Linked DNA regions of Homo sapiens: all the other regions are linked to region 1. Evidence: fine-mapped expression QTL. A gene starts in region 1. Each other region holds a variant in brackets. All regions are shown on one strand. Distances are between the middles of the regions.

What was found. PIP is the estimated chance that this variant, and not a neighbour inherited with it, causes the effect.
Region 2: its variant is the best candidate, but not a certain one, in a credible set for the expression of SYTL5 in caudate (GTEx, PIP 0.80).
Region 3: its variant is the best candidate, but not a certain one, in a credible set for the expression of SYTL5 in adrenal gland (GTEx, PIP 0.81).

Annotation. Positions count from the first base shown.
Region 1 is chrX:38,001,980-38,012,567 of GRCh38, forward strand. SYTL5 (synaptotagmin like 5) reads left to right here and starts at 4,574. Exons shown (of 17, transcript NM_138780.3): 1 at 4,574-4,689.
Region 2 is chrX:38,036,796-38,047,383 of GRCh38, forward strand. The region is part of intron 2 of SYTL5 (synaptotagmin like 5); the gene reads left to right. Among named protein-coding and RNA genes, the nearest start is that of MIR548AJ2, 18 kb to the left of the region's middle. The variant A/T (reference allele first, on the strand shown) is at 4,329.
Region 3 is chrX:38,072,341-38,082,928 of GRCh38, forward strand. SYTL5 (synaptotagmin like 5) reads left to right here. Exons shown (of 17, transcript NM_138780.3): 5 at 1,250-1,358; 6 at 4,227-4,361. Among named protein-coding and RNA genes, the nearest start is that of MIR548AJ2, 54 kb to the left of the region's middle. The variant G/C (reference allele first, on the strand shown) is at 5,108.

The sequences.
Region 1 (10,588 bases):
ACATTAGGTATATCTCCTAATGCTATCCCTCCCCACTCCCCCCACCCCACAACAGTCCCCAGAGTGTGATGTTCCCCTTCCTGTGTCCATGTGTTCTCATTGTTCAATTCCCACCTATGAGTGAGAACATGTGGTGTTTGGTTTTTTGTCCTTGCAATAGTTTGCTGAGAATGATGGTTTCCAGCTTCATCCATGTCCCTACAAAGGACATCAACTCATTGGTTTTTATGGCTGCATAGTATTCCATGGTGTATATGTGCCACATTTTCTTAATCCAGTCTAACATTGTTGGACAGTTGGGTTGGTTCCAAGTCTTTGCTATTGTGAATAGTGCTGCAATAAACATACGTGTGCATGTGTCTTTATAGCAGCATGATTTATAATCCTTTGGGTATATATCCAGTAATGGGATGGCTGGGTCAAATGGTATTTCTACTCTAGATCCCTGAGGAATCGCCACACTGACTTCCACAATGGTTGAACTAGTTAACAGTCCCACCAACAGTGTAAAAGTGTTCCTATTTCTCCACATCCTCTCCAGCACCTGTTGTTTCCTGACTTTTGGATGATCGCCATTCTAACTGGTGTGAGATGGTATCTCATTGTGGTTTTGATTTGCATTTCTGTGATGGCCAGTGATGATGAGCATTTTTTCATCTGTCTTTTGGCTGCATAAATGTCTTCTTTTGAGACGTGTCTGTTCATATCCTTTGCCCACTTTTTGATGGGGTTGTTTGTCTTTTTTCTTGTAAATTTGTTTGAGTTCATTGTAGATTCTGGATATTAGCCCTTTGTCAGATGAGTAGATTGCAAAAATTTTCTCCCATTCTGTAGGTTGCCTGTTCACTCTGATGGTAGTTTTCTTTTGCTGTGCAGAAACTCTTTAGTTTAATGAGATCCCATTTGTCAATTTTGTCTTTTGTTGCCATTGCTTTTGGTGTTTTAGACATGAAGTCCTTGCCCATGCCTATGTCCTGAATGGTATTGCCTAGTTTTTCTTCTAGGGTTTTTATGGTTTTAGGTCTAACATTTAAGTCTTTAATCCATCTTGAATTAATTTTTGTATAAGGTGCAAGGAAGGGATCCAGTTTCAGCTTTCTACATATGGCTAGCCAGTTTTCCCAGCACCATTTATCAAATAGGGAATCCTTTCCCCATTGCTTGTTTTTCTCAGGTTTGTCAAAGATCAGATAGTTGTAGATATGCGGTATTATTTCTGAGGGCTCTGTTCTGTTCCATTGGTCTATATGTCTGTTTTGGTACCAGTACCATGCTGTTTTGGTTACTGTAGCCTTGTAGTATAGTTTGAAGTCAGGTAGCGTGATACCTCCAGTGTTGTTCTTTTGGCTTAGGATTGACTTGGCAATCTCCTTAAGCTGATAGGCAACTTCAGCAAAGTCTCAGGATACAAAATCAATGTACAAAAATCACAAGCATTTTTATACACCAATAACAGACAAACAGAGAGCCAAATCCTGAGTGAACTCCCATTCACAATTGCTTCAAAGAGAATAAAATACCTAGGAATCCAACTTACAAGGGACGTGAAGGACCTCTTCAAGGAGAACTACAAACCACTGCTCAATGAAATAAAAGAGGATACAAACAAATGGAAGAACATTCCATGCTCATGGGTAGGAAGAATATATATCGTGAAAATGTCCATATTGCCCAAGGTAATTTATAGATTCAATGCCATCCCCATCAAGCTACCAATGACTTTCTTCACAGAATTGGAAAAAACTACTTTAAGTTCATATTTTGAGTTTTTAAAGGAACCTTCAAACTGTTCTCTAGAGTGGTTGTACTAATTTGTATTCACACCAACAGTGTACAAGTGTTCCCTTTTCTCCAAATCCTCACCAGCATTTGTTATTGCTTCTCTTTTGGGTATAAGCCATTTTAACTGGAGTAAGATGACATCTCATTGTAGTTTTGATTTGCATTTCTCTGATGATCACTGATATTTAGCACCTTTTCATATGCCTTTTTGCCATTTGTATGTCTTCTTTTGAGAAATGTCTATTGAGATCCCCTGCCAGTTTTTAAATCAGATCATTATATTTTTCCCTATAGAGTTATTCGAGCTCCTTATATATTCTGGTTATTAATCCCTTGTCAGATTGGTAGTTTGCAAATATTTTCTCCTGCTCTGTAGGTTGGCTCTTCACTTTGTTGATTGTTTCCTTGCCATGCAGGAGCTTCTTAACTTGATGTGATCCCATTTGTCACTGTTTGTTTTGGTTGCCTGTGCTTGTGGGGTATTACTCAATAAATCCTTGCCCAGTCAAATGTGCTAGAGAGGTTTCCCAATGTTTTGTTTTTGTTGTTTCATAGTTTGAGGTCTTAGATTTAAATAGTACAATCGCATGGAGAACCGTTTGTAGGTTCCTCAAAAAATTCAAAATAGAGCTACCATATGATCCAGCAATCCCACTCCTGAGTATATACCCAAAAGAAAGGAAATCAGTATATTCAAGAGATATCTGCACTCCCATGTTTACTGCAGCACTATTTACAATAGACAAAATTTGGAAGCAATATAAATGTCCATCAACAGATGAATGGATAAAGAAACTGTGGTACATATACACAATAGAGTGCTACCATCTATAAAGAAGAATGAGATTCTGTCGTTTGCAACAACATGGATGGAACTGAAGGTCATTATGTTAAGTCAAATAAGCCAGACACAGAAAAAAAATTTTGCATATTCTCACTTACTTGTGGGAGCTGAAAATGAAAATAATTGAACTCATGGAGATAGAGAGTAGAAATATGGTTACCAGAGGCTGGGAAGGGTAGTGAGGTGCTGGGGGGAAGTAGGGAGGATTAATGGGTACAAAAATAGAAAGAATGAATAAGACATAGTATTTCTTAGTACAACAGGGTGACTATAGTAAAAATAATAATTTAATTGTGCATTTTAAAATAATGAAGACAGTATGATTGTATTGTTTGTAACACAAAGGATAATTGCTTGAGGCTATGGATACCCCATTTACCCTGATGTGATCTTTATATATTGCAAGCCTGTATCAAAATATCTCTGTAACTCATAAATATATACACCTACTATTTTTCCATAAAAATTACAAATAAAAAATCCTAAAACTCAGCCCTTACAAGATCTGCAGGGGAGACAGAATTTGTAGGTTGATCTCCCAAATTCATCAGGCTTGGAAAGGACCTTAGACTTTCTGCATAACTACATTAGCAAAACCAAACCAATTCTATGGAAATGCCAATATTAATAGAACAAATATTAATACTCCTCAGAGGGAGATAGCAGAGTCTTTACACTATATGATCCCCATTGTCCAATATGCAATAAAAAAATTCAACATGCAAAGAAACAAGAAAATATCACCTATTGTCATAAAATCAGTAGAAACAGACCCAAAAATGTCCAGTTGTTAAACTTCATAGAAAAAGACTAAATCAATTATTATGTATTCAAAGAACAAACAGAAAATAGGTTCAAAGAATGAAAGGAAAATATGATCTTTATAAATGTACAGATAGTGAATTTCAGCAGAGAAATGGAAACTATAAAAATAACCACATGGAAATTTTAGAGCTTAAAAAATTATAGTAACTGAAATTAATAACACACTAGATGGGCTCACATTAGTTTGGAGATGGCTAGCATCAAATGAGCTTGAAGACAGATCAAAAGTAATCATCCAATCTGAAAAAAATGGAACAAAACATGTATCTCTAAACTTTTTAAAGGTGTTGTATTGACTTCTTTTGTATGAGTTTTTTAACATAAGAAAGTAATAACTCTCTTGGTACTTCAAGCTAGACTCACGTTTTCGATTCTCCAGGACACCACCTTTGGGGTTCCCCACTGTAGCTAAAAGGGACCTGGCTATGGTAACATAAATGGGTAATCACCTTGGCAGAAGTGATCTTAACAAAAATTTCACTTACTTCAACTAAAGATTCAGTACCATACAAGCACTGAGAAAACCTCACTCATTCTCTAATGTTCAGCTGAGCAATCACATACTGTTACACATTTGTCTTCTAAAAGTCATACATACATAGCACAGTGCTATGATTAGATACCTGGACTATGGTTATGGAGTGCCTGGATTTAACTTTTGACTCCAGTACTTACTAACTGGGTGACTGTGGGCAGACTACTTAGTTTGTTCATTTGTAATATGGGGATAATAATATTATACACCTAACACATTTGGAGAATTATTGGAGAGGATATATGTAAAGCACTTACAACAGTGCCTGGCACATATGTGTTCATTGTTATCACGTTTCTCCCAGGTTTTTTAAGAATAGAGATTTTCAGGGGTAGAAGAATATTAAAAGAGTGAATCACCTTTAAAACACTGGTGTAAAAAATACCTCATGTCAAAAAATGTTTAAAATGTGCTTTAGATGAAACCTGTTACCTTTCCCCTGCTGATCAACAGAGACATTCCTTTTTGAAAGCTCAGCTTTAGAGATACTGCCTTCTTCTTGAAATAGCTGTCTGCAACAGATAAACATTACTCTGTGCTACTGGGTGTGTTCAATGTGTAAATAGATTGTGGGAATATGAGAGGCTGGTTTTTCAAGTTCCTGCTCCAAGTAGTTCACAAGGGTCAAGTAGTCCAGCATTCTACAGTTTGTGTGTTTGAGAGAAAAATAAGCCCATAAAAACATTCTAACCTTCAGATTAAGGTAAGACTAATGCGTTTAGGGATCTCCAGTGTGATATCTGATTTCTTAATTTCTGTATTTTGTGTGTGGTAGGGGAGTAGTGGGATTTGCTGGTCAGGAAGAAAACAGCTCCTTCCACCATTTGATATTGTATTTTACAGTAAAAAAGGGAGAAATATGTACAGAAGGGACATTTTGGCCATTGGTAGCTATGAGTTTAATGGATTGAGGAGAGAAATATAAGTATCTTTTTGTTATTAACACTTGATTCTATCTATGAAGTGAAGCATTGCACTAGGTTCTACTGAAGAGTGAGTGCCTCCAGGAACAAATATGCATTCTAGTGACATAAAAAAATCAAATTCACAGCAGAAGTGTTGCATCATTTTGCTATAAATCTCTCACACCTCTCTATATAAACCTCTCACATCTCTATATAACATAGATTGTCCTTTTGCTCTGAATTTCTTTCATTTATTAGAAAATTTAGATGTTTCATTTGGAATTATTTAATTGTTTTTACATTCAGTTCCATTTTTGATATGGACAAATATCCAGTATGGATATAAATTCAGTAGAAGGATTAATAAAGTCTGAAAAACCTGGAATAATTTCAACATGAATATGATACTGTAACAGCTTACAGAAATGCGATATTAACTGTGAACATTAATATACTCTGAAAAGATGCATCAGGGTTTAAAAAATTTCTCCTTAATGTAGATTGTTTTAATTACCAATACTGTCTTCCTCATTTAAATGAAAAACGTAATTTTACAACTATTAATATATAACTTCTCTTTGCTCCAAGTATATGTGTATGCCTGGAGAAAAGCATATGCCTGGAGAAAACAGGAGTTATATATTTATAGCATTCAAAATAGTATAAAATATTGTTTACATGTAATAATGCATTTAGAAGTACTACTTCAGTAGTAGCCTCCTTAAAAAGTATTTTAAACACAGGAATTAAGTATATAATTTTTTCATTTTGTAATAAGTTGTTTATATGTTATTTGGACAACAGCTTACACACAAAAGTGTTACAATTCATACCCTAGGTCTTAAATGCATGAAGCCATTTGTTTGGACTCTAGTGAAATCCTTAAATTGGTCCTTGCATCCCTCAGTATATATATGTACATACCCACATATACATGCATATTTACATGTGGGCAACTAATAACTGAGAAAATGTCTTACTGCTCTTTTAGTTGTTGAATCATGCTTTTTCTATGTATTTATGATTTCCTGAAATTCTTTGCTATTTTAAGTTTGGGTATTAGCTATGTTATCCTTCTATTTATTCAGATTTGTTAAAGTCTTCTGATAGGTTTAGTGAATAAAATTATTGAGCTTCTACCTCTTTTCTTTTGGAGGCCCATTTAGTATTTTTGTTGAAATTACTTCCTTATTATTATTTAGTATGTTAAGGGAAGGAAAAGGAAATGTAGCTTTAATATGTAAAATGAGCAGTTCGTTTTACTTAAGCTCTATTATATGATGATGTATCTTATGACTATTTTGCCATCCTGCGTAAGCACTTAGCTAATCATCTTTAATACATTCTACTTAAAATCTACTTGTAAATATGCTTTTGTACATTCATATCTTACTTGTCTGTGGTCTCTCATCCTCTTTCTCTCTCACCCCTCTATATACATTCACACATTTTCCATGATTTCACAAAACTTCTCTCCAACCTCGTTCCATTCCTGGTTATCTCTTTCTGTGGGGAGTATCATCATTTCCTTTGACCTCTGTTTCTCTACATCTTCCATCTTGCTTAGCCCATGGACTTTTGATTTTACTGAAGACAGCAAAAAAGCAGATGGTGCTTCTGTTACTTGCAGAGTTAGCAACCGCTGTGGTTACCTTAGGTTCTGAAAGATTATCTAAAATAGGGAGGAGCTCCTAGAGGAACAAAATATAATAAACATGTAGTGTACTGGGATAAAAAATTCACTTGATCTGGTCTCTCTCTCCTTTTAACAAAAACATTTCTCTAAGAAGTGATTAATAAAACATACCCTACTGCCTCACTTTCTCTTTTAAAATCTTTCTTTCAAATTCCCCTATGACATAAAATCAATCTTCATCACTTTATTGACACTGTACTTCCAAGGGTCACCTGTAGTGCTGCTAGGAAATTCAAGTACATTCATTTATTTATGTATTCATTCATCCATTCAATAAATATTTATTTAGTGACAGCTATGCATCAGGCATTGCTGAGCACTGAAGTTACAGTAGGGAACACTTAAGTCTGCCTTTATATATCTCCAGTCTAGTTAGGAAGGGTGTTAACTCACCCAAATAATTCATTACAAGTGTGATAAGGGCTATAAGGAATACTTTTCCAAATTCTCATTTTATTCATCCCCTTGGCTCTATGTGACACACATGATCAATTCCTACTTCTTAAATTTTCTCTTTCCTTCTTGTCCATGACTCTATACTATTTATTCAACTGCTTTTCTACCACTTCCCTTCTTGTCTATTTTTCCTTTTCTCTTCCTTAAGTTTGGGTTTCCCTCAAAGGTTTAGCATTTATTTAGCCTATAACCTATTACGTTTTGCCTTTCTCTATAACTTCTTATCAACCCTTAGTTTTAAATATCACCTCTAAGTGGATACCTCCAAGACTTCCATTTCCACATCTTATCTTTTCCATCTGCTATACATTTTCCCACTTGTATGTCCAAGGGTCACTCGACATTCATCATGATTGTAGCCAAACTCACAGCTTTTATGTCAAACCACTTCCCCTTTCATTTCATTTGTTTCTGTGAATGGCATTAATGATCTCTTGGTTTCTCACATTTGAAATCTTGGAGTCAATTTTGCTTCTAACTTTTCCTTTGCTCTCAATATCCAAACCACTACCAAGTCCATTCATTTCTTTAATTATAATGTATCTAGAAGCCATCCTCTCTCATCTCCCTTTTCTGTTATTTTTTTCTTTTATTCTCTATTTTCTCATCCTTTTTTCCCTCAGTCTAAGAGCTACCTACAATTCAAGGTTTTGGTCAGGCCCCATCTCCATCAGAAAGTCCACACCTCATGGATATCTTCTTTTTCTAAGCCCCAGAATCATTGGGGTAGTGAAAAGAACATAGCCAAAGAGCCAGGTTTAAGTTTTGATTCTACCATTCACTGCCCCCTGTGCACTCTCTGTGAACCACAGTTTCCTCAGACTCATTCTATCTCATATAGTGGCCACAGGAACAAATATAGTCATGGAGAGGAAATCATTTTGAACTATGAAGAACTATATAGATATTAAAGTAAGATTTGTTGCTGGAAGAATAACTCAGTAGCAGAGACCAAAACCCCAGGTCTTAACTATTGAAATCATATTGTGCAGGGGTTGAGAGTGTTGACTCTGCAGTCAGATGACCTGAGTTTGAATCTCAGCTCTGCTACTTACCAGCTGCATGAAATTGAGAAAACTTAGTTAGCTTTCCTGTTGCTGAGTTTCCTCACTGTCAATTGGGGATAACAATAGTTTCTACTGATAAGAGTGTTGTAGGATTAGAACGTTTAGTAAATGTAAAATACTTAAAATAGTGCCTAGCTCATAGTAAGTGCTCTGCAAATGTGGAAGAGGTGGTAGGGGCCTATGAGGCTAAGTGTGGTTACGAGGTGAAAGCCAGGTATTAGAACTGAGCCACCAGATGGGGATTAGGTACAGCAAGGATGCAAGCACAGAGCTACAGACTGGACACATGTACCTAGATGAATCCCTCATGATTCAGATAAAAAAAAGAATGATCTTGCCATTTGGGGCAGAACTGAGCAAATGATGGAGGTATGAACGTTCTGAGCGACCATTCGGGGCACAAAAATGGGGATAACAGTCTTTCAGACACATTTTCTTTTTGTTAAAGAAGAACAAATGTTAGATTGCCCTTTTGTGTTGTGAAATATGTCAGTATATCATGGAATCAAAATGTCAGTATCCAAATAAATGTCCAAATGTTGAGAAAGCTGACTCAACTGTCCTCTATATTCTAGAAATCCGTCTCTTTAACAGTCATATGCTTATTGCATTTCAGAGGACAAGGGCCCTTAGAAATGTCATTCCTCACAATTTATAGGATTATTGCCCAAAGTGTGTATTTTTACTAATACACTTGGAGATTAGTTTGTTTGATTGTTTCATGTCAGAAAGAAAAATAATAATAATACTTAGAATATTCTAAGGGTTGTTCTAAGTGCCTTAAATTTTTTAACTCATTTAATCTTCACAAGAACCTCATGAGATGAACATCATCATCATCAACATCATCGCCACTACCATTTACATAAGAATAAACTGAGGATCATAGAGGTTAATTGGTAATTGGACCAGATTTCAAATCCAAGCAGCCCAGCACCAGAGGCAATTTTCTCAAGCACTGAGTGCTATCATATCAGCAACTCTGTGTTTTAGAATCTGGTTAAAAGGGCATGCTCTGGAGTCCTAGACTGCTGTTACATGTTGCATCTCCAGTTTTCCTTGACAAGTGGTAATAAATGTTTGATATTTTTCATAATTGATAAAAATTACTTACATAAGATTTATACTAAGTAATCCAATGTCCAGTAATGCTGTGCAAGAAGAGTCTGGTTTTTCTCATCCATTATTCTGTATTTGAGCATCAAACAAAGGCCTCAAATACTGATGCTCTCTGTTTCCTAGAGAGTATGTTATACTGCTGGCCGGGCGCGGTGGCTCACGCCTGTAATCCCAGCACTTTGGGAGGCCGAGGCGGGTGGATCACGAGGTCAGGAGATCGAGACCATCCTGGCTAACATGGTGAAACCCCGTCTCTACTAAAAAAAATACAAAAAATTAGCCGGGCGCGGTGGCTGCCGCCTATAGTCTCAGCTACTCGGGAGACTGAGGCAGGAGAATGGCGTGAACCCAGGAGGCGGAGTTTGCAGTGAGCCAAGATCGCGCCACTGCACTCCAGCCTGGGCAAAAGAGCGAGACTCCGTCTCAAAAAAAAAAAAAAGAGAGTATATTATATTGTTTTGCCCTGTACTTAACTGATGTTGTACCCGTGTACTTAACTGCTGCTGCTGCCCGTGGGGATATTTTCTAGGGTATCTGTGAGTTTCCATCTTTGTCTTTGCTAACTATTTCAAAAGTTCAGGCTCAATTTTTGGAGTTGCTATGTTTGTTTTCTATTTCCTATTTTAACTACTTCTTGTTCATTTAAATGTTCTCTCACCGTAGTTTAGTGGGATTTTTTTTTTTTACTTTTCTCTAAGCGTTAGCTACAAAAATAACTTAATAGGCTTTTAGTTCATTTTCTTCTTCACTGAATAAGAATATTAAAATCAAATTTACCTTCACCGAACACTTAATAACTTTTTTCATTTCCAAGAAGGCCCAGTGCCATTTGTAACTCTTGTTAAAGTTTAATTTAGCAGTTTCCAATTTTTGTAACAGTCGACTTATCCAGGCTAATTTGATTTAATATTTCTAACAGAATGCCAGGAAACACTCTGTTCCTACAATAAGAACATGTCTGATTCATTTAAATGAATAAGAACACGTCTGGTTCATGTAAATAGACTTCAGCGGCATTTTTGTTTTGGTGTTGTGCAGTCAAAAAATATTTCCGAGAGAATATCAGGACTTGGAAAGAAACCAAGAAAATGAATACAAAACAACTCTAAGATACATATCATTCTAAAGCAAGTAAAATCCTCAAGACCAAATAATATAATTTAAACAACCATTTAACATTGATAATGTTTACTAAGAATGGAAGTGGTAGACTTTACCAGAAAATATAGTTGAGTTGGGGTGGGACGTGGGGGTGTGCAATAGAGAAACCAAACTTGGAAAGAAGCCATCAGATAATGATGTTCCAGGTTCAAATATAAACTTTAAATCCAAATATACTTTTATCTGGATTATAAAAAC
Region 2 (10,588 bases), 35 kb after region 1:
AAATCTAGTTTCCCCATTTGACAACAGAAATAATATCAGTGACATCATAAGATTGTTCTAAGGATTAAATAAGCTAATATTACAAACAGCTTAGAGCAATGCCAGCATACAGTAAGCACTCAAAAATTGTTGGTTATAATCATTAGCCCTATAGTTGGTTTGTGGTGCCCTTGATTTGCTAGTTGCAGTAGACACTATCAGTGCTCTACTCAGATCCCCTGGAGTCCCTCTCACCTCCTAGTTTTCATGCACTTTATTCTAAGGACTTGAAGTACAAAATTACCTTCGGGTGACTGGAGTTTCCCATAGGATTAAAGAGACACAAGTGCCAGGTAAACTTGAGTGTTAACTGGGTAGCCCAAAGCCAATGGTTGACGGGTACAGAAATCCATTGCCTCAAGGCAGAACAGACTCTGCAATGCAACTTAAGCTCCAGAGCTTCCCGTGGGATGATGCTGAGGCTGGACTTCACCTAAAAATCACACCCTTGCTTAGCCCCTCTCCCTGCCTTCTCCTGCCTCCCTTACTCCCTTATAGATTTCTCTTGAGAGCACTACATAAGTCGCTTGCACACAAATCTACATAGCAGAATTCGCTTCTAGAAAACCCAGTCTGAGACACTATGAAGTTTGTATTACCAAAGCTATTACTATTTAGTAAAGTTCGTTTCAGGGGAAATATAATAAGTCTGCAAGGTGAGCATTAAAATAAAGAATTTTGGTTCATTTGATTTACAAGCTATGATCTTCCCAACAATTTTTATCACAGTCATTGTGGTTTACATACTGGTAAAGAAAAAAGTCCAAGCTAAAGAAAGAAGCCCAAGATTAAGCATCTTGGTCAGATAATATAACTTTCTGTTGGCTTTTCTCCCTTTATCTCCTCTGAATAGCCATTTTATTATGAATTTAAGTACAACCTAAATCAGTTCAGGGTACCTTAACTTTAGCGCAGTGGGTCTGCATGGCAATTAAATTCTGCAAACATTTTTCTGATAGATAGATAGATAGATAGATAGATAGATAGATAGATAGATAGATAAAAATATTTATTATAAAGAATTGGCTCATATGATTATGGAGGCTGAGAAGTTCAGACCTAGGAGAGATGATGGTATAATTTGAATCTGAGTCCAAAGGCTGAGAACCGGGAGAGCTGATGCAATAAGTTCCAATCCATGTCTGGCAGTCAGTAGCAAGGGAAAACTGATGTCCCAGCCTGAAGACAGGGAGAGAAAATTCATTCTTACTCAGCTTTTTACTCTATTCAGACCTTCAGCGGGTTAGACGAGGTACATCCATATTGGGGAGGGCAACCTACTTTACTCAGTCTACTAATTCAAATATTAATCTCATACAGAAACACCCTCACAGAAACATCCAGAAATAATGTTTAACAAAATATCTGGGCTCCCAGTGGTCCAGTTAAGTTGATACAAATAATTAACTGTCTCAGGAATTTATATAAAGCTGGCTATAGCCCCCGTTCCCACACTTTTGTGAATTGTATAGCTCATCCTGACTCTGTACCCCCGCTTCTGTTGAACTCTCCTCTCTCCTTGCATCTCACCACTTATGGCTATTCCTTACTCTTTTCTTTGCCAGGCCAGAGAACTTAGTCCTTTTTCCTTGATATCCTCCAAAACCATCAATACAAGAAATTTAGATGGGTAACAGATTTTATTACAACAGTAAACTTTGGTGCTAGCTATTACAATAGTTTTCATCATGCTATAGAGGTACAAATGGATATTTTGGGGGGAGTCTAAAGGAAGAAGTAATTAATTACAAGTAAGATAGAAACTGAAGCAATGGTTTCACAGAAAAGGTGAACGTTTGTGCTTGCCTTTGAAATGTGAAAAGGACTTTTCACATTGGCAAATATAGGTCAACTATGTTTTGGCTGTTTACCATGAGCCACAAAGCCACCTTCAGACTGTACTAATCAGTTTCAGAAGGAAATGGAAACCAAAATTTTTTTTAGACTGAAAAAGATTACAAAGAATAAACTTATCTGAAAAGTTAGTAAAGTGGAGTTTGGGAGGCAGTGGATTTATTGTTCGTTTGTGTGTTTATTTGTTTGAATAGCTTGTCCTTTGAGATAAAAATGTAGAAGACGGAGAAAGCGTAAAAATTGTACTGAATCAATATTTTAGGCCTGACACCCAAATGTGCTTCACAGTCCACATACCCACTAAAGTGTGGCATTGATTAAGGTGGGACTGGTCTTTGGGGACTCGTAAAGGTGCTCCATACCCAGAAGGCACATGGCAAGCCTGATAATTACCTCCAGGCATAAATCATCAGCTGGGGAATAGGCATCTGTCTACTACCATTGCATTTTAAGTTCATTCAAGAGGCTGAAATATATTTGTATACATTCTTCTCCTTCAGACTAAGCAGGAAGGAGTGGTAGGAGATAGCGAGACACAGGTTTTCACTGTTAGAGGGTAAGAATATTTTTAAGGTTCTCTATGGAGAGCAAGTCACTCAAATTTATTGACGGCTTTACTGCAATGAAGAAAAAGCAGAAATGTTGCAAATAAAATTGAGCTATCAACAATTATTGCAAATGGATAAAAATACTGACAGTTTCGAAGCACAAAATGGAAATCATTGTTGATTATTTTGATTTTGTACCTTAGATTGCTTTTCATTTACTTCAAAAGAACTCAGACTAACATGTACGTGGGTCATAATATCTACTCCAAAAAAATCTCATTAACAAATTTTTACTCTACTTGATCTCTCACACCTAAAAACAAATACTGTTAAATATCTACTTTGTGGTATTGACTTGTACTTAAAAATCCTCAACTTATTAGTGAATATTCATTTCAGCAGTATATTGTGAGCTTTATTCTCACTAAGGGTACATCATTTCCATTTGACCACCATACATGAAAACATATCTGCACATGTTTTCTTTGGCACCTAATCTTGGGCTTGCCTCAGTGGTAAACTCTATTGGTTGCCTTACAACATAACATTTCTCCTTTCTTTCTATCCAAATCAAAGTTTTATTCAGCTCTAGCAGTGAATTTTTTAAACAAATTTTTTCTCAAAAAAAATTTTTTTTATTTTTTAAAAAATGTTTTAGGCCAGGCGTGGTGGCTCACGCCTGTAATCCCAGCACTTTGGGAGACCAAGGCGGGCAGATCATGAGGTCAGGAGATCGAGACCATCCTGGCTAACACGGTAAAACCCCATCCCTACTAAAAATACAAAAAATTACCCGGGCGTGGTGGCATGCGCCTGTAGTCCCAGCTACTGGGAGGCTGAGGCAGGAGAATCGCTTGAACCTGGGAGGTGGAGGTTGCAGTGAGCCGAGGTCGCACCACTGCACTCCAACCTGGGCGACAGAGCGAGACTCCATCTCAAAAAAAAAAAAAAGTTTTAAATATTTGTGGGTACATAGTAGGTGTATATATTTATGGGATACATGAGATGTTTTGATACAGGCATGCCATGTGAAACAAACACATCATGGAGAATGGGGTATCCATCTCCTCAAGTGTTTATCCCTTGAGTTACAAATAATCCAAATAAATTCTTTACTTTAAAATATATTATTAAGTTATTATTGACTATAGTCACCACACTGTGCTATCAAATAGTAGGTCTTATTCATACTTTCTATTTTTTTAACTCATTAACCATCCCCCCCCCGACCCGAGCCCCACACTACCCTTTCCAGCCTCTGGCAACCATCCTTCTACTATCTATGTCCAGGAGTTCAATTGATTTGATTTTTAAATCCCACAAATAAGTGAGAACATGCGAAGTTTGTCTTTCTGTACCAGGCTTATTTCACTTAACATAGTGATCTCCAGACCATCCATGTTGTTGCAAATGACTGGATTACACTCTTTTTTATGGCTGAATAGTACACCATTGTGTATATGTACCACGTTTTGTTTATCCATTCATCTGTTGATGGCTGCTTCCAAATCTTGGCTATTGTGAACAGTGCTGCAACAAGCATAGGAGTGCAGATATCTCTTCAATATACTGGCTTCCTTTTTTTGGGTATATACCTAGGAGTGGGATTGCTGGATCATATGGTAGATCAATTTGTAGTTTCTTGAGGAACTGCCAAACTGTTCTCTATAGTGGTTGTACTAATTTACATTTTCACCAACAGTGTATGAAAGTTCCTTTTCCTCTGCATCCTCGCCAGCAAATGTATTTTGGTTTCTTGTGTAAAGCTGGCTCAGTTGAAATGCGCCACTAAATAAGCCAGAACTTAATATCTCCAAGAGACCACAGACCCCAGCCTAGTAACTCCCATTCACCTTATGGTTTTCTCTTAATGTGACTGATTTTGTC[A/T]TTTCAGTGCTAGGAGAAGAGAAGGAAGGAGAAACAGGAGGGGAGCGTGCATTCAAATTGCTTATTTGGAATCCTGCAGATAAGTTCAATATTTGGTTCAAATGGATTTGAAGTGATTTCAAGAATTATACATTCAGCCTGGAAGTCAGGGAGTCTAAGCGCCAAGCAATAATACCCTTTTAATACACTATAAATGTTTGATCATTTGTTTGTTTTTCCAAATCTTATCACTCTACCACTAAGAGCAAAATTAGTTTGACCTTCTCAAAAGCCTAAAGACTCATTGTCCCCATAAAACACCAGGAGAACTGTTGGACTGGACTTCTAGTTTGGTAAACACTTTGGTTTAATCCTAATAGAATTGCCACAAAGCTTCTTAACGGATTAACAGAAACTCCCAGCATGAACATACTGGCTCCCTAATGGAACTCAAATGCTTAATGAGTCACAGAAAAATGAACAAAAATATTCAGATCTGCCTTAAACCTTGGACGTTTTCCTAGCAAAGACCTTACCAATTTCAATATATAATTACATTTAGGGAAACTAACTTTAATTTTGATTCTAGAGCATTTTTCTCCGAGGAAGCGTTACTTGTAAGGTGCACCATAGGCACAGGGCCACAAATACCTGATATTCAGAGACATGTTAAACATTGGATTGTCCAAATAAATAAACTTGCCAGATCATTTTTAATATTTTTTTACATTTTATTTTATTGACACATAGTAGATGTACATATTTTCAGGGTACATGTTATAATTTCATACATTTATATAATTTGTAAAGATCAAATCAGTGTAGTTGTGATATCCATCACCTTAAGTATTTATCTTTTCCTTATGCTAGAAACATTCTAATTATTCTCTTCTAGCTATTTCAGACCATTTTCTTGGGGGTTTGAAATAATAGATCACCATAGTCATAAGTAAGATTGTTACCTGAGACTATATCTATTATCTGTATCTACATATGTCTCTATATAGAGATCTATATTATTTCAAATTATTAACGTGTTTATATTATATTCATATAAGATATATATTATTTCAAATACCTAGACTATATATAGAAATATATATAGAGATAGGTTTTCTCTCTACATATATAAGTGGAGAGAGTCTATATAAAGAGAGACTCAGTATAGGCTGGGGATTGGTTTCAGGGCCCGGGTGTATACCAAAAGCCACACATACTCAAGGCTAAAGTTGGCCTTGTGGAACTTGTGTATAGGGAGAGTTGGCCCACTGTAAATGTGGGTTTCATATTCCACAAATACTGTGTTTTCAATCTTCATTTGGTTGCAAATGCAGAACTCAAGGTTATGGAGATCCAACTTTGTTTATTTTTTAAAAATCCACATATAGATGAACCTGGGCAGTTCAAACCCATGTTGTTCAAGGATCCTCTGTATATTTTTTACTCTTCCCCATATTCCCATTTTACTACCCTTTCCCTTCCTTGTGTATTGTCTCTAGCCAGAATTGGTATAGAGGTCATGTCTCTAGGCAGCAGGGGTTAGTTGGCACTCACATCCCAAGAAACTACCATTCCCTTTCAATGCAAATTGCAGAAACAGAACAATAAAGCCCATGTAATCCAGAACCTGGCTGAATGTTGGGGCTGGAAGGGGGAGTAAAGAAGACCCATCCCCTCAAAGGTAAGTCAGCTCATAAGGGAATATCTAATATCAACTATATCCTTGGAGAAATAGGTATTTTATTCCTAAGAAAATGATATAAGTGAAAACTTCACTAATAAAAATGTCACCACTAATATTTTAGATTTCAGGCAAGTGACCATTTTATATCAACAGTAATCTTATAAGAATGTTCCTATGTTAATAGAAGTTATGGTTTAACCAATTTAAATTTATAATAAGATTAGGCTAACATGCATTTCATAATTTTTATAATTGTTCTTTTATTGCAGAGTAATTAAGCATAATGAAAATATTTAATGCAAAGAAATTAATAAAATTCTTACACAGCAAGCAATTTTTTAAAGTTTTTAATCTCAGTATTGTGCTAGGATCTATAAAGGGCATCAATGTCTGCAACTTTTAAAATACCATAAACCTCAATCCACTTAAACATTTAATATCTTCTGATACATATTTTCATTATAGAATCAATGGGCTTATTACAGAAAATTACATAACCATATAATATGAACATTAAAGTCTCACATAGAATTCCACTTTCCAGAGGTGAATAGTCTCCATTTGTGTTGAATTTCCTTCCTGTCACTTTTATGTGTATATATATACACATATATATATGCAATTTTCATATAGTTGGAAATTGCATGAAATTTACATATACATACTGTATAAAATATCATAAACCTCAATCTGCTTAAACATTTAATATTGTCTGGTACATATTTTCATTAATAGAATCAATGGGCTTATTATAGAAAATTAGATAACCATATAATATGAACATTAAAGTCTCACATAGAATTCCACTTCCCAGAGGTAAATAGTCTCCATTTGTGTTGAATTTCCCTCCTGTAACTTTTATGTATGTATGTATGTATATATATATATATATATATATATATATACATATATATATACATATTTTCATATAGCTGGAAATTGCATGAAATTTACATATACATACTATATATGTAAATTTTATTCTTTATTTTTGCTTTGCATTATTTCATGAACATTTTTCATGTCATTAAAAATTATTTGTAAACATTTTTATTGGCTGGATAAGATTTCATAACATAAGATTTTTCCATATAACATGAATGTGCAACGTGTTTCTTAACTATTTATTCTTATTTCCATGAACATTCTCATTCTTAAATCCTCTTATATTGTGATTCATATTTTGAATAATATTTCCTTAATTTTAAAAACCGGCAATCTGAGAAAATTGATTCAATTAAGACCATGCATCTTGTGAATCAGATTGTTTATTGTTTATCACAAATCTCACCTTCCTTTCGTAGAATCTGAAAGTTTGTAATTAACTGCCAGTGATGGTTTTCAGTGAAGCATTTAAGGAAAGAACAACACATAAAGGAAACATTTATATTCATATTCAACAAATTTCAAAGAAATGGTGACAACATTTCTTGTATCATGTACTGATACTGACAACTAGGGAAACTGCTCGAAATGTGTTTTGCAATAACCTTTATCTGTGAAAATGTGAATCCCCATAAGTATCACCTAAAAAGGTAAAATGGGAAAAAGTAAGTACTGATAACTGCCTTTGCTGAACATATAACCCCTTCCCCACCACATTTAAAATAATTTAGTTTGCACAAATTCAATTTAGAGTCATTCTAGAAATAAACTTCAGTTATACATTTATAAAAACTAAAATGGAAACCCTCTAGTATGTGTCCATATTCAGCAGCAGAATTGGTTTTAAAGAATTTTTCATGAGCAACATGTTCTCTCTAAAGTATCAGTTTTTTTGTATGAATGCCCAATTTTCTTCCATCAAGTCAATTCTATCATTGCATTGTGATACCAAATATTTTAAGAAGCCCAGCATTTTATCTTGGTTGTTTTTTAAAGAAATGCAGCTTTCCTACTTCTTGCTGTACTGATTCTATCTCCATCTCTGTTTTTTTCTGAGTAATTTATCATATTGATAACAAGACTTTCTGATGTTTTTAATACTCGAGCAAGGTATTCTTTGGGTTTCAGATTAGCAAAACACATTCTTGTTTCTTAATGGGCCAGGAAATTGAGACAATAGTTATTTTAAGATAGTTCCATGTGGGAGACTTGGTTTGCTAATTACGTATGAGATAAATTTCTGCTATGATAAGACTATAGTGAATAAACAGCAAGGTATCAAATTGCAGTGATTCCTAACTCCTTTAGAGTTGTAACGAGCTGTTTTTGTCATATTATTTATAAGATCCCTGTCTTAGGTTGGATTCCCCCAGAGGTAGACCTTGAACTCATGATTTGTGTGCAAGTGATTTATTAAAGAGAAACCATAAACTACTAGTAGGGAAAGCAACACAGGAAAGGAGAAGAATCTAAGCAAGGGTGAGAAGTCAGGCAAAATTTGGCAGAGGTCACCATCATCATGACTTTACAGAGACAGATAATGTTTGCTGTTTTGTCTCCATTGTCCTTTTTAAAAAGAATTCAGAATGAATGCTTGAGTCATTGTCCCTTTGCATATATGAGCACATTTAATGTTTCTGGAAAATCTGTAATAAGTCATTGATTCTCTTAGGTTATAAGGGATTGGTTAAGTTCTTCCTCGTATTTCTGTGGTTTTAATTATTTTCCCTAAAACTGTTACTTTTCAGCATTATTGCTCCGTTGTTTTCAGTATTTTTTGGATTTGGGTTTTTTGTTTTGTTTTGTTTTGTTTTTTGTCAATTGCCTGTCAGTTGACATGGTTTTGTGAGATTTTCCGGTATATTCCTATGAGCCAAGCTTTTTAATATCAGGAAGTTTCTTCTGCAGATATGAAGACTTCACAATGCCCTCTTTCCTTGAGACTATTTGTAAACATGAAATTGGCACAAGTCACAAGACTTCTTTATCTAAACAAGTGTTCTTTTACTCCTTCTTCTTGTTACTTTCTCTTAAGCAGCTTTTTATCCAGGCATAACTTTTTCCCAGTTCTCAGAGAGTTGTGATTCTTTTTAATAGCCTTTGATTTGAAAACTAATCAAAAGTTATACAAAATGTATTAAGATAGAGTCATGCTTGTTGAAGAATGACTCTCTTGGGGAATATTTGTCATGAGAGACTTTGTGATAAGATCCAGTTTGGGCAGATGCCATATGTTGAAAGAAGCTGGGCGGGCGGAAGAAACCCTCCATGTTTACTGAGGCTTAACTTTGAGTGTGCTCAGCATGGCTTTGCACAGCTAGGAAAGAAACAACAGTCATGAATAAATACGGAGTCCTTTCTGAGCAAAAATATTTTAATATATTGAGAGCCAGTGGGAGGATACTGGTGTGTGGGAAGAGTGCAGATTTTGGAATGTAAAATTCAGGGTCTGAATCCTGACCTCCTTATTTAATAGCCCTGTGACCCACAAGTTACCTCTCGGAGATTCCACTTTCCTGTCTATAAAATGGGAATCATAATGTATTTTTCATGGGTTGTTGTCAAAGCAATGGTATGACATGTGTATTAGTTCGTTTTCATGCTGCTGATAAAGACATACCCAAGACTGGGCAATTTACAAAAGAAAAAGGTTTAATGGACTCACAGTTCCACATGGCTGGGGAGGCCTCACAATCAAGGCAGAAGGTGAGAGGCACGTCTCACATGGTGGCAGACAGGAGAAGAGAACTTGTGCAGGGAAAATTCCCTTTATAAAAGCATCAGATCTCATGAGACTTATTCACTATCATGAGAATAGCATGGGAAAGACCCACCCAAATGATTCAATTATTTCCCACCAGGTCCCTCCCACAACACATGGGAATTATGGGAACTACAATTCAAGATGAAACTTGGGTGGGGACAGAGCCAAACCATATCATTCTGCCTCTTGCCCTTCCCAAATCTCATGTCCTCACATTTCAAAACCAATCATGCCTTCCCAACAGTCTCCCAAAGTCTTAACTCATTTCAGCATTAACTCAAAAGTCTGCAGTCCAAAGTCTCATCTGAGACAAGGCAAGTCCCTCCCATCTATGAGCCTGTAAAATCAAAAGCAAGTTAGTTACTTCCTAGATACAATGGGGTACAGGCATTAGGTAAATACAGCCATTCCAAATGGGAGAGATTGGCCAAAATGAAGGGGTTATAAGCCCCATGCAAGTCTGAAATCCAGGGGGGCAGTCAAATCTTAAAGCTCCAAAATGATCTCCTTTCACTCCATGTCTCACATCCAGGTCACGCACGCTGATGCAAGAGGTGGGTTCCCATGGTCTTGGGCAGCTCCACCCTTGTAGTTTTGCAGGGTACAGCCTCCCTCCTGGCTGCTTTCACGGGCTGATGTTGAGTGTCTGTGGCTTTCCTAGGCACACAGTGTAAGCTGTCAGTAGATCTACTGTTCTGCGGTCTGGAGGACAGTGGCCCTCTTCTCACAGCTTCACTAGGTGGTGCCCCAGTAGGGACTCTGTGTGGGGCTCCATCCCCACATTTCCCTTCCATACTGCCCTAGTTGAGGTTCTCCATGAGGGCCCTGCCCCTCCAGCAAACTTTTGCCTAGGCATCCAGGCATTTCAGTACATCCTCTGAAATCTATGCAAAGGTTCCCAAACCCCAATTCTTGACTTCTGTGCACTTGCAGGTTCAATACCACATA
Region 3 (10,588 bases), 70 kb after region 1:
GTAGAAAACAAAATTCACAATGATTTTCCATATATCTCACCCACTAAGATTTTCAAAGAAACCATTTGTCTCCATCATAGACAGTTCTCTTTCTGAATGCATCCAATATTTTACTAAACACTTAAAGTAACATAAAACAGATGAATTAAATGATTCACATTGTGAAAGCAATCCTTGATTTTTCAACAATATTTATTTCCGATTTCCTTTCAATGTTACTTTTTAAATCCAGTGGTTCTCAATCAAAGATTGATAATATGTACCTTGTCTCCCTCCCTCAAAATGGGAGCATTTGGAAAGGCAAGGGGGGCATTTCTGGTTGTCACAGTGACTGGTGAGTCAATGGCATTTGGTGGGAAGGAGCCAGAGATGCTAAATGGCTTGAAATGCATAGTCTTACTGAATGAATACTGGCACCAAATGAAAATAACACTTTACCTTGACAGTGCCTTTTGGTGCATTCAAATTACAATTTAGTTAATTAAAGATGGAGTAAACCTTGTGATTGGGAGCATGTTTCTCGTATATGGTGTAGTAAAAGCGGAAGAAACATCTTTCAGCCTGTTTCTAGGCTTATCTCATCTTTCATCCAGAGGAGACAAGTGCCCTTGTATTTAAGTCTGGCACATATGGCGAGAAGGCTTGGAACTGATTCCAGTGGTACTTCTGGGTGTGGCACTAGCAAGGAAAGGCTTTTCCACATAGGTCACACAGATCCGATACTACAGAGAGATGGTGTGGAGTACAGTTAGAATTAGGCAATCAGCCATGGCCTCTTCTTCCACTCAAACCCCAGTACCTTCCAGAATGTAGGCAGTTCCTCAAGTCACAATATATTTGCACAGATGCCCACCCTCCCAGGAAGTGTGGCTTATATGCCCAGAAATTAGGACATCATTTCTACAACCTCATGCTAGAACTCAGTCTCCAGGGATTTGGAGATCTTAGGAGACCATGTTCCCCTGCTCTAAAAATATCAACAGAAGGCTGATGCAGTCATCCCTAGGAAGGTTATCTCAGTAAACCTCCCACAGATGAGTTCAGGATCTTTGTCTTCAGTTAACTCTAGAACACTCAACAAATTAGAACTAACTGTGTGACAGAAAAACTTGGGATGGGAATGGCATTGCCAATTATTATAGACTTCCTTGCCCTGAGCTAATCTGGGAAAGTGAAAGCAGAATATAAATTTGCTCTCATTTCTGGCCATTTTGTATGTAAATTTCTCTTCTGATTGTTTGTTAATGAGGAGCTGAAGAAGTACAGAGCCAAGAGCAAACCCGCCAGGATGCAGAAAAGTCAGACACTTCACCTGTTGCTGGGAAGAAGGCCAGCCATGATGGGCCCAAGAGAAAGGGGTAAGACATGGTCTTTCTGAGGGAATTTTTGATCTTTATTCCAGACACCTCTGAAATGAAGACTCCTTAATTTTTCAAGTTTGATGTCACTTCAATGACCCAGAGGAGGTCAGAGACTCAAACAAAGTAACACTTTCTTATCATTCTCCTCAGGAAATGCAGTTTTAATAATTTTCAATAAGTAAATAAAAGTCCTGTCTGACCTAAGCACAGAAGAGTTTTCCTTTCATTTGACATATCCAGTCTTGCACTATATGGTTCCCATTACTTATAAGTAGAAAGTTTCATGCCAGGATCAGTCTATAAAGAGGTGACAACAATTTCTGTTGTACAATGTCAATACTCCTCCCCTCCAACCTGTGTGCTGATATATAATTTTATCCAAAATAAAGATTTATTAATTGAGCTTAAAGCACCATATTCCCTATTTAAAATTCAGGCTTCCTTAAGAAAAAAAGTCACATTTGGCCACCACAGTAACTTAGTTCAGTAAATGAATACAGAATATGGATGCCAAGTACTGAGAATAGGAATGGGAGGTACATAAGGGAGCAAGAAGTTTCTTTCAAGGGAGAAAAGTGGATCCCAAAATATAGGCTATAAGGACCAAAAGGAAACTGCATTTTTCAGTTTTTGTTTCTCATGCAGCTATTGGCCAGTTTTTGTGACTGAAGTAGTGAGAGTTCTAATGTGCACCAAGTCATTTTATGGTCCTTTCTGTTTTTTTATTATTATTGAGATGGGGTCTCATTATGTTGCCTGAGCTGGCCTTGAACTCCTGGGCTCAAGCAATCCTCTTGCCTTGGCCTCCCAAGTAGCTGGTACTACAAGTTGTATGCCACCATGCCTGCCTAACTTTATGGTCCTTTTCAGACAGCATTGCTTCATTCTCTCAGTAGAATGCAAAGTGAGAGGGCATTAGTGTTAGAAGATTTATCTGGCTGTACAAAATGTCTAGGGTTCTTTTAGAATCTTGGGCTGTCAGTAGGAATACAATCTAAATGTCATCTAACTCAAGCACTCATGACAAACCATGTTTTCATTGATGAGCAGAGATGAGTTGGAAAGATAGCCTAGAGTATCCTGTATATCCTATCCTATGTATTGATCCTTCCTACCATCTTGAGTTCATTTATCACTCTTTGGGTCACCCACAATGCTTTGTGCCTTTGCACCACCAATCATATTGCACTCTGACACCCCCTCAACACACACACACACACACACACACACACATGCACACACTTAATTGTAAGCTTCTTTAGTGGTAGACCAGTGGTTTCTTTGCTTCTGTGTTGCAGTATCTAGCATGGCACCTGACTCATCAAAAACAATCAGTGGCTTGATTGAATAAGTAACTCAGAGCCCACAAATGCCTCTAGGAGTTGTCATTTGCAGACCCCAGCTCAGGCATCATAGAGTAGGTTACAGAATAGTGGACTTGGAGATAGGAGACAGTAACTAACTCACCATCACAATCAATTATGCAAATTCTGAATCATTGAAACCATTGTAGCACTGGGCTGAGCCTTAGATTCTGATTGTTCTCAGTCATCAAGGAATATAACATCTATTTGGGGAGAAAAGGTACACACCTGAAAAGTTACTAAGTATAAAAGAATTGCAGGAAAATTTAAGATGGCAATGTGAGCTTCCTAAAAGCCTTTCTAAAACAGAGGAGGGTGTTCACCACAAGAGATATCCTAAGGTTATAAATTACTGAGTACATATAAATAAGCAGGTGGACAATAAGTGCCAGTTGAGTATAGGAGTCATCCAGAAAGACATCAAATTGTACATGAGATTTGAGGAGGAGATAAATGGGGTTCAGGATCACAAAACGGAGGAAGAGTGACTCCAGGCAGAGGAGATACCTTAAGTAGAGGACATGCATGAGGTGGTTCTCAGAGCAGCATACCTTGACATTATATTAAGTGCTATTCTCACCAAAGAAAAAATGTAATTTTCCAGTAGATTAAAGCTTCAGATGCTTTGACAATGACACTATTCCAGGAGTCTTTGAAACAGAGACAACATGGCAGATTCTATTAAGATTGTGCCAGTACCTTTGGAATCCATGTTTTCCTCTAGAAAACTGTAGAATGTAAATGAAGTGTATCTCCCAATGCCATTACAAAAAGGAATATAGCTTTGATTTTCTTATTCAAGTACATTTGGAAACACCCATGTTTTGGGCACATGGTATCCTGGATCAGGACTTTAAGTTCCTAAAAGGCTGTTTCTGCTTAAACCCCAAATAATTTAGTGAAATTGGAAGGTAATCAGATTTTATCCAACATGAGGCACAAGAATAAATGTCATGGAAGATAATAAAGATGAGTTTAGTCATTCGTTCCACAAGAGTTGGTTGGATTCCAGTATAAGCCAGGCATCATTCTAGGCTCTGGAAATCTGTCAAGGAACAAGAAAGGCAGAGTCACTGCTCTCATGGAGCTGCAGTCTAATAAGCAGCTACCTCAGTTTGTCCAAGAGGATCATCCTGGCTTCCCTCTCTGAGCAAAGGGAGTTCAAACTCTCTATTCTCACTATTCCTGCAAACAGGCCCAACTCAGGGAATGCATCTTCTTTCTCAGGTGACAGTGCTGAGTTCTCAGAATAGGCAGTCTTTTGCTTAGTAGTGACCTACCAGCAAGTGGTACGGTCTTGAGAGAACGGCGTAACCTTCCCCATTATCACCCTTGATACTGTATTGCAGAGGCACTGGGAACTCTCCAGAACCTCTCAGCCCTAAGGCTGCTTTATTGAAGAATCCTTTATTATTAAAAGTACTAGAAATTGTATTCTTGAAATGATATTTTTAAATGCTTTCTTTCTTATCTAATTTTAAATACATATATATAATTTCAGATTTCTTCTTAGCAAGTTCAGATCGGCAACCAGAGGAGAAATCATAACTCCCAAAACTGACACTGGGCGGAGCTATAGCTTGGACTTAGACGGTCAACATTTTCGGAGTTTAAAATCACCTCCTGGTTCAGACAGGTAAGAGTCATACAGATTGAGCAATGATGTAGCCTGAGGTTAAGGTTGATATATTCCCATTCATAGGGGGATTTTAGGTATCTGTGAAATATTACCACTTGGAGAACTCCTAACACATAATGTGAAAATTCAGGAAGATATTTTTTAGTTGATATGGAAAGCACGTACCCTACTTCTAGAATTACAGCTATTGGAATTGCCTATGTCACCTGCAGGGATGAAACTTTATATTCTGGCACTTGGGGCTGCAGTTCAAATGGAAATGTACAGGGCAAGTAAATGTTTTTCATTGACTTCTTGAGCTTTTTCTATTTAAGCTCCTGAAAAAAAGAAACCTCTGAGTGTCAAATACATTCCTTGCAGCTTTTAAAAAATTATTAATAATTTTAAATTTGAATTTCCTCAGAGACTTTTTCATAAATTTCACTTCCTTTCTAGTTCCACCTCTTCTAACTGGAGGAGATTATCAGTGGAGCCAATTGAGAATGTCCTATCCACAGATCTATCACTTGTCAAGAAAAATAATGAGAAACACAAAGGATAGCCCAGAGCATAGTCATTTTATATCAGGCGTGATTTTCTGTATCCTATTGGAGCATAGTCAAGACTTATTTTCATGATTAGTGTATTATCAAAGCTAGCAATGAGAAAAAAATATCCACCTTCATATTTCACTGGTTTGTCCAATTGTTAACTCCCTTTCGTTTGCTTGTGTCTGGGGTAATTTTGCAAGCCAGATAGTACAA[G/C]TAGCAGATTTTCTTTTCTCCTTAGGTTAGGAAGAATGCAAGCAGAATTGCATTCTTCCCTGTAATCCATTTTAGAATGCAGACCAAAAAATTTCCTTAGAGGGGACACTATTTTGACTATTGGGTTATTTTTTCATGGTGACTCTCCATAGCTGTTTCTTTTGTCCCTATAACAGTCCTGCATGCAAGCGTTACTTTATGTAAAACCATACAGAAAAAAAAAATTACAAGGAAGCGTAAAGTCATTTATCACCCATTATCAAAATATTAATACTGTATTCAGTATTTCCCAAACTTTCAAGAATGCTGATATATTCCCTTTTATGATTACAAACTGTTAAGCTATGGTTGCCTTTATCCTTGAAATAGTTTCATTTGTCTTCCATTGAGGTAGCTTCATGCTGTGTCCCACAAAACTTTCTATAAACATCTCATTTTGGCTGGGCACAGTGGCTCACATCTATAATCCCAATGCTTTAGAAGGCTAAGGCAGGAAGATTGCTTGAGCCCAGGAATTTGAGGTTACAGTGAGCTATGATCATGCCACTGCACTCCAGCATGGGTGACTGAGCAAGACCTTGTCTCAAAAAAAAATGAATAAATAAATCTCATTTTTGTTTTTCATAGTTGGACTCCTGACTCTGAGATAGTAGTGGTCAAAATTATTTAGAGACAGTAAGCAACTAATTTGGTGTTCTTTTTGCTCAGCCTCCTGGGACTCCATGGATGAGCCACCTTGGCTAACACTTAAGGCTAGCATTTAAGAAAGGCAATATATACAAAAAGAGGAAAGACAATGTTCCTTGTTTTTTGTTTTTGTTTTTTTTTTTTGAGATGGAGTCTCGCTCTGTCTCCCGGGCTGGAGTGCAGTGGTGCAATCTCGGCTCACTGCAACCTCAGCCTCCTGGGTTCACACCATTCTCCTGCCTCAGCCTCCCGAGTAGCTGGAACTACAGGTGCCCACCACCACGCCCAGCTAATTTTTTGTATTTTTAGTAGAGACGGAGTTTCACCGTGTTAGCCAGGACAGTCTTGATCTCCTGACCTCATGATCCACCCGCCTCGGCCTCCCAAAGTGCTGGGATTACAGGCGTGAGCCACCGCACCCGGCCAATGTTCCTTGTTAAAGAAAAAAAAAAGGCTGCCAGCCTAACAAAATTAGATTGTGCTATTTTAAGTTATATGTCTTACAGTTACTCAACAAGAATAATAGGGAGCATGGTCTCCAGTATCAGTGCTTATACCGTAATGGACTCTATCTGCCTCAGTTTACTCTTTGTGTATTATCTACTACTAGGCATAAATAACCAAAACTATAAAGCCATATGGACATGCATCACCAAGTACTGGTATATTGACCCAGGAGCTTCTTGTTCTTTTTGTAAGCTGAAAGAAAGTCCCTAAGTAGACTTTATCTTAAATTGTAAATACCTGAAATGGCTTACACATAGTCAGAAGTAGCCAGGAGTGCTTTGGCTTAAGCATGTTAAGAACAATATTTTGCCACTAAGAAAGTGAGTAAAGATGCTCAGGAGATCAATAGAGCAAAATGTCCTTTCCCTTGAACGTGCATTTATCACAGTGATGACTCATTAATGGACTGCCACAGTGAGATGAGTTCCATTATTTCAAAATGAGTCCTTAGAAAATTGAGGCAGGAGGTAGCCCATCTTTTCTTAACTTCCATCATCTGAAGAGACTGTAAGATCCCAGTCTCTTTGGTCTATTGCCTGACCCAGCTTACTAATATTTCCCCTTTTTCCCTTACAATGCATATTTTTTCATGGATCATTGGTATTTTCATGGAGCAGCTGGGCTTCGGCATTCCTTTTTAAGGCTCACATCATATAAGAGTGTAAATGATGTTTTATCAGATGTGCAGTTGGCTTTCTTTTCAGTAGTTTCAAAGCAAGGGAAAGTATGAATAGATTAAAGAAGCCCTAGCAGCCTCTCAGAAGAGCTTGTCAAATGGATGTTCACCGGTTGCTAGGGACTTGACACATGAGACAAAGAATATTTTTAGGAAAATAAATGTAAGCTGTAGTTAATAAACAATATTATTCAAGGTAGTGATTTCTAATCCCTACAAAGTTGTGATGAGCTGTCACTGTGGTATGATTTACAAGATCTCTAACTTAAGTCATGCTCTCCCAGAAACAGACCCCTAGACAAGGATTTATAAGCAAGTGATTTATTATTAATCAAGTGATTCCAAGAGAAACCAGGAAGGGAGTAGGAGAGACAGAATAGAGAAGAGGAAGAAGCTAAACAATGGTGCTAGCTCCAGTGTGGTCTGAGGACTCAGCCTGATCCTGTAGGAGACTCTAGAGCATAAACTATATCCCTGAGCTTTTTCCACATTGAGGAGCTGGACCATTGCACTCCTATACCAGTCAGTCATTGACCATGGCCTCCCTTGAATAGAGTCTCTAGACTTAGCAAGTGAAGATACAGGATGCCCAGGTATGTATAGTTGAGACTAACAACTGTTTTTTAGTATAAGTATGTTTCATGCAATATTTGGGACATCCTTATACTTAAAATTAATTTTTTTATCTGAAATTCAAGTTTAACTGCGAGTTCTGTATTTTATCTGACAACTCTTCTATAGGGGTGAGGGGGAGACAAACTCCAGGGCATTTCTAGGCCTCCAGCTCCAGGGCTAAAGGGAAGGTCTCTGAAGGTGGCAGGTGACATCCATTAGCAGAAAAGAACTCAGGATCTAGGGAGGAGCATGCACAGCTGGTAAAAGGAATCTGAGGGAGATGCCAACAATGTTATCTTTAAAAACAGAGTAAAACTAGAACTTTGAACCTAAAATGCATTTTGTTCAGTAAAAATGGAGGAAGAATGATGCTGTTTCTCAGTAGCGTTTCTATCATGTCATTGGAGAATATGGCAATATCTACATGGAATGTGAACAGACGGTGGGACCTTGTTTGGTCTCGTAACCAACTAGGTTCTCATCTTTCTGCCCTCCCACTCCTCCACTCCACGCACACCAGTTTCATCCAGTTATTCCTAATTGCTCTCCAGTGGATCTGGGACTGATGGTCACAGTCTCTGTGAAGCTTCACAAGCTGCTTTGCTTTGGCTGTGATCCACCAAAAGCAGAGACCACACCATTCAAACCAGCCCTTAGCTAGTTCTTGTCCTCATTTCAAGCACTGCCCCTCTCTTTTTCTCTCTCTGTCCAGGAAATATGGCACTTTGGATATTATCATGAATTTAAAGAATCATCCATTCCTCATATCTATTATTTTAGTAAAGTGAGTTTATTAAACCCATTCTATCACTAAATGATGCCTTCTTTTTCATCAGAAATAAAATTATTCTCCTGTCCTGAATGTAATTTTCATTGACATCTTTGCAATTAAGGTGCCAATTAGGTGGCAGCCTCTTACTAGAAATTTGAATATAGCAAGGTGGGAGTGTTTAACTCTGAGTCAGGACCACATCCACAAAGTCAACAATGGTCTGTTTTGCGTATTAGATAAAACATTACATAGCTAGTTGCTAATGCTATTAGCAAACTCCATTCCTTACCAGGCTTAAAAAAATGTTCAAATGTATAGCATATCTCTGAAAGTATGTACATTTATTCTATAATGATCGTTCGGTGACTCAACAGGATAAAGGCTGTGAGCATTGTCCTCCAAAGGAAAATTACTTTCACCTCTTTCCTGTGCCTTTCCCTCCTTTGTCACTGCTAATTCCTTTTTTTCCATTTTAATCTCCTTTGGGTAAGCTCAGCCCTCCTTAGGAGGAGCGAGGGGTGGGCAATCAAAGCCACAAGCTGTAGCAAATGCTAACAGCCTAAAGCAATTCGCAAAACCATGGTGGCCTGAGAAAAGTGAATTTTAATTCCAGGGAGCAACTGACACATGATAAAACAGGAGAGGAAACATGAATTCACCAGAGTATTTTGTTATGCTGTGACCTTATCAGTGGGAGATACACAGTCTGAAGTTGCAAAAAAAAAAGAACTTTAGCTAGAAACTTCTATTTAGAACTCAAAGCCATCCTTTTCTAAACTCATCCTTTGCCCACCATATGCACAAATATGCACTTGATTTGGGCTCCTTTGGAAGACAATCCTGAAATAAGGATTCAAGAGTAAGTAATATGTTCAGGATGTGGTCTAAGGAAACAGAGATAGGAGAGTGGGGAAATGAGCCAGGGAAGGGAAGGCAGGCAAAAAGGATATGTCATTAAGCCAGTTGTTATTGTGGGCAACTAGAGCTCAATCTCACTGGCCAATTCTAGAAAACCGTGCTGAATGTACCTCAGAGTTATCCAGTTAAGAGATAGGGAATCTGGGGTATTTTTACAGCAGCTCTTTGTTCAAAATTTATTGAGGGCTGCTTCTAGGGCACTAACTCTCTGGCACTTCCGACTTGCCCTGTTCACAGGGGCTCCATGCTCCCATGAGTCAAAAAACTCCTCAGGCAGGGAGTTCTGGGTATTCCCAGTAACCAAGATTCTGTGGGTAGAGGTAAGTGCTGAAGGCAAATGGGCAGGGACACTGAGAGTCTGCTACAACCTCCCTCCCAAACTGCTCTCAGACCTCCTTCAAAGACGCAGTTTGTCAGACCACTGTTCAGCCCCTGATTTCTGTTTACTTTATATTATGTGTGACTTTCCTCATTATAATGTCAATAATGTGAGAAGGTATGGAGGCTCAGTAATTCAGCCACACCCATGCTTCATTCCTGTGATCAAATGATTGTAAGCCTGAAGCCTCCTCCTTGCTGTTTTGTCTGTTTCTCCAATTGTTTCCCATGGATTCACTGTCTTGGCATGCTCTATTTCTATGAACTAAATCTAACACCTTCCCCTCCTCCAATTTAATAAATTGCTCTTTTACTCACTGCTACCTAAATATGTATTATGTGACATGTTACCACTCTCAGGGTAGCTAAGATACAATAGATAGCCTTTCTTCTTCTACAGATCATTGAAGAGCAGAGATATGTGACTTGGTCATCTATGCATTCTATTCATACAAATGAATTCAACACACAGCTCTGTTAACATTATTGACCTAGTACTATATATGCCAGATGGTAAATGTGGAAGTTCTTAGACAGTAATACTGTTCCACCCTTTTATGAGCTTCCAATTTAGCAGGAAGGCTGGGATAACTAAACAAATAATTTAAATACAATATAGTAATACGATTTTAAAAAGATGTTCTGCGTGCTATGGGAAAACCAAAGATAGGCATTTATCCTTTCAAAGGATTCAGGTAAGCTTCATTGAGGTGATCCCTAAGCAGCTTTTAAGAAATGAGGAGGACTTGGCCAGGTAAAGAAAGATAGGAAGAGCATTCTACACAGAGGAAATAAAAAGTACAAAGGAAAATAGACATAAAGTAGACTGTGTGCTGAAAAGAAACTGTTCAGAGTTTCTAGAGTATAAAAATTGAAGTATGGTGTACAAGAGATGAGGAGATGGAGAGGTAAGTTGGACCAGGATGTA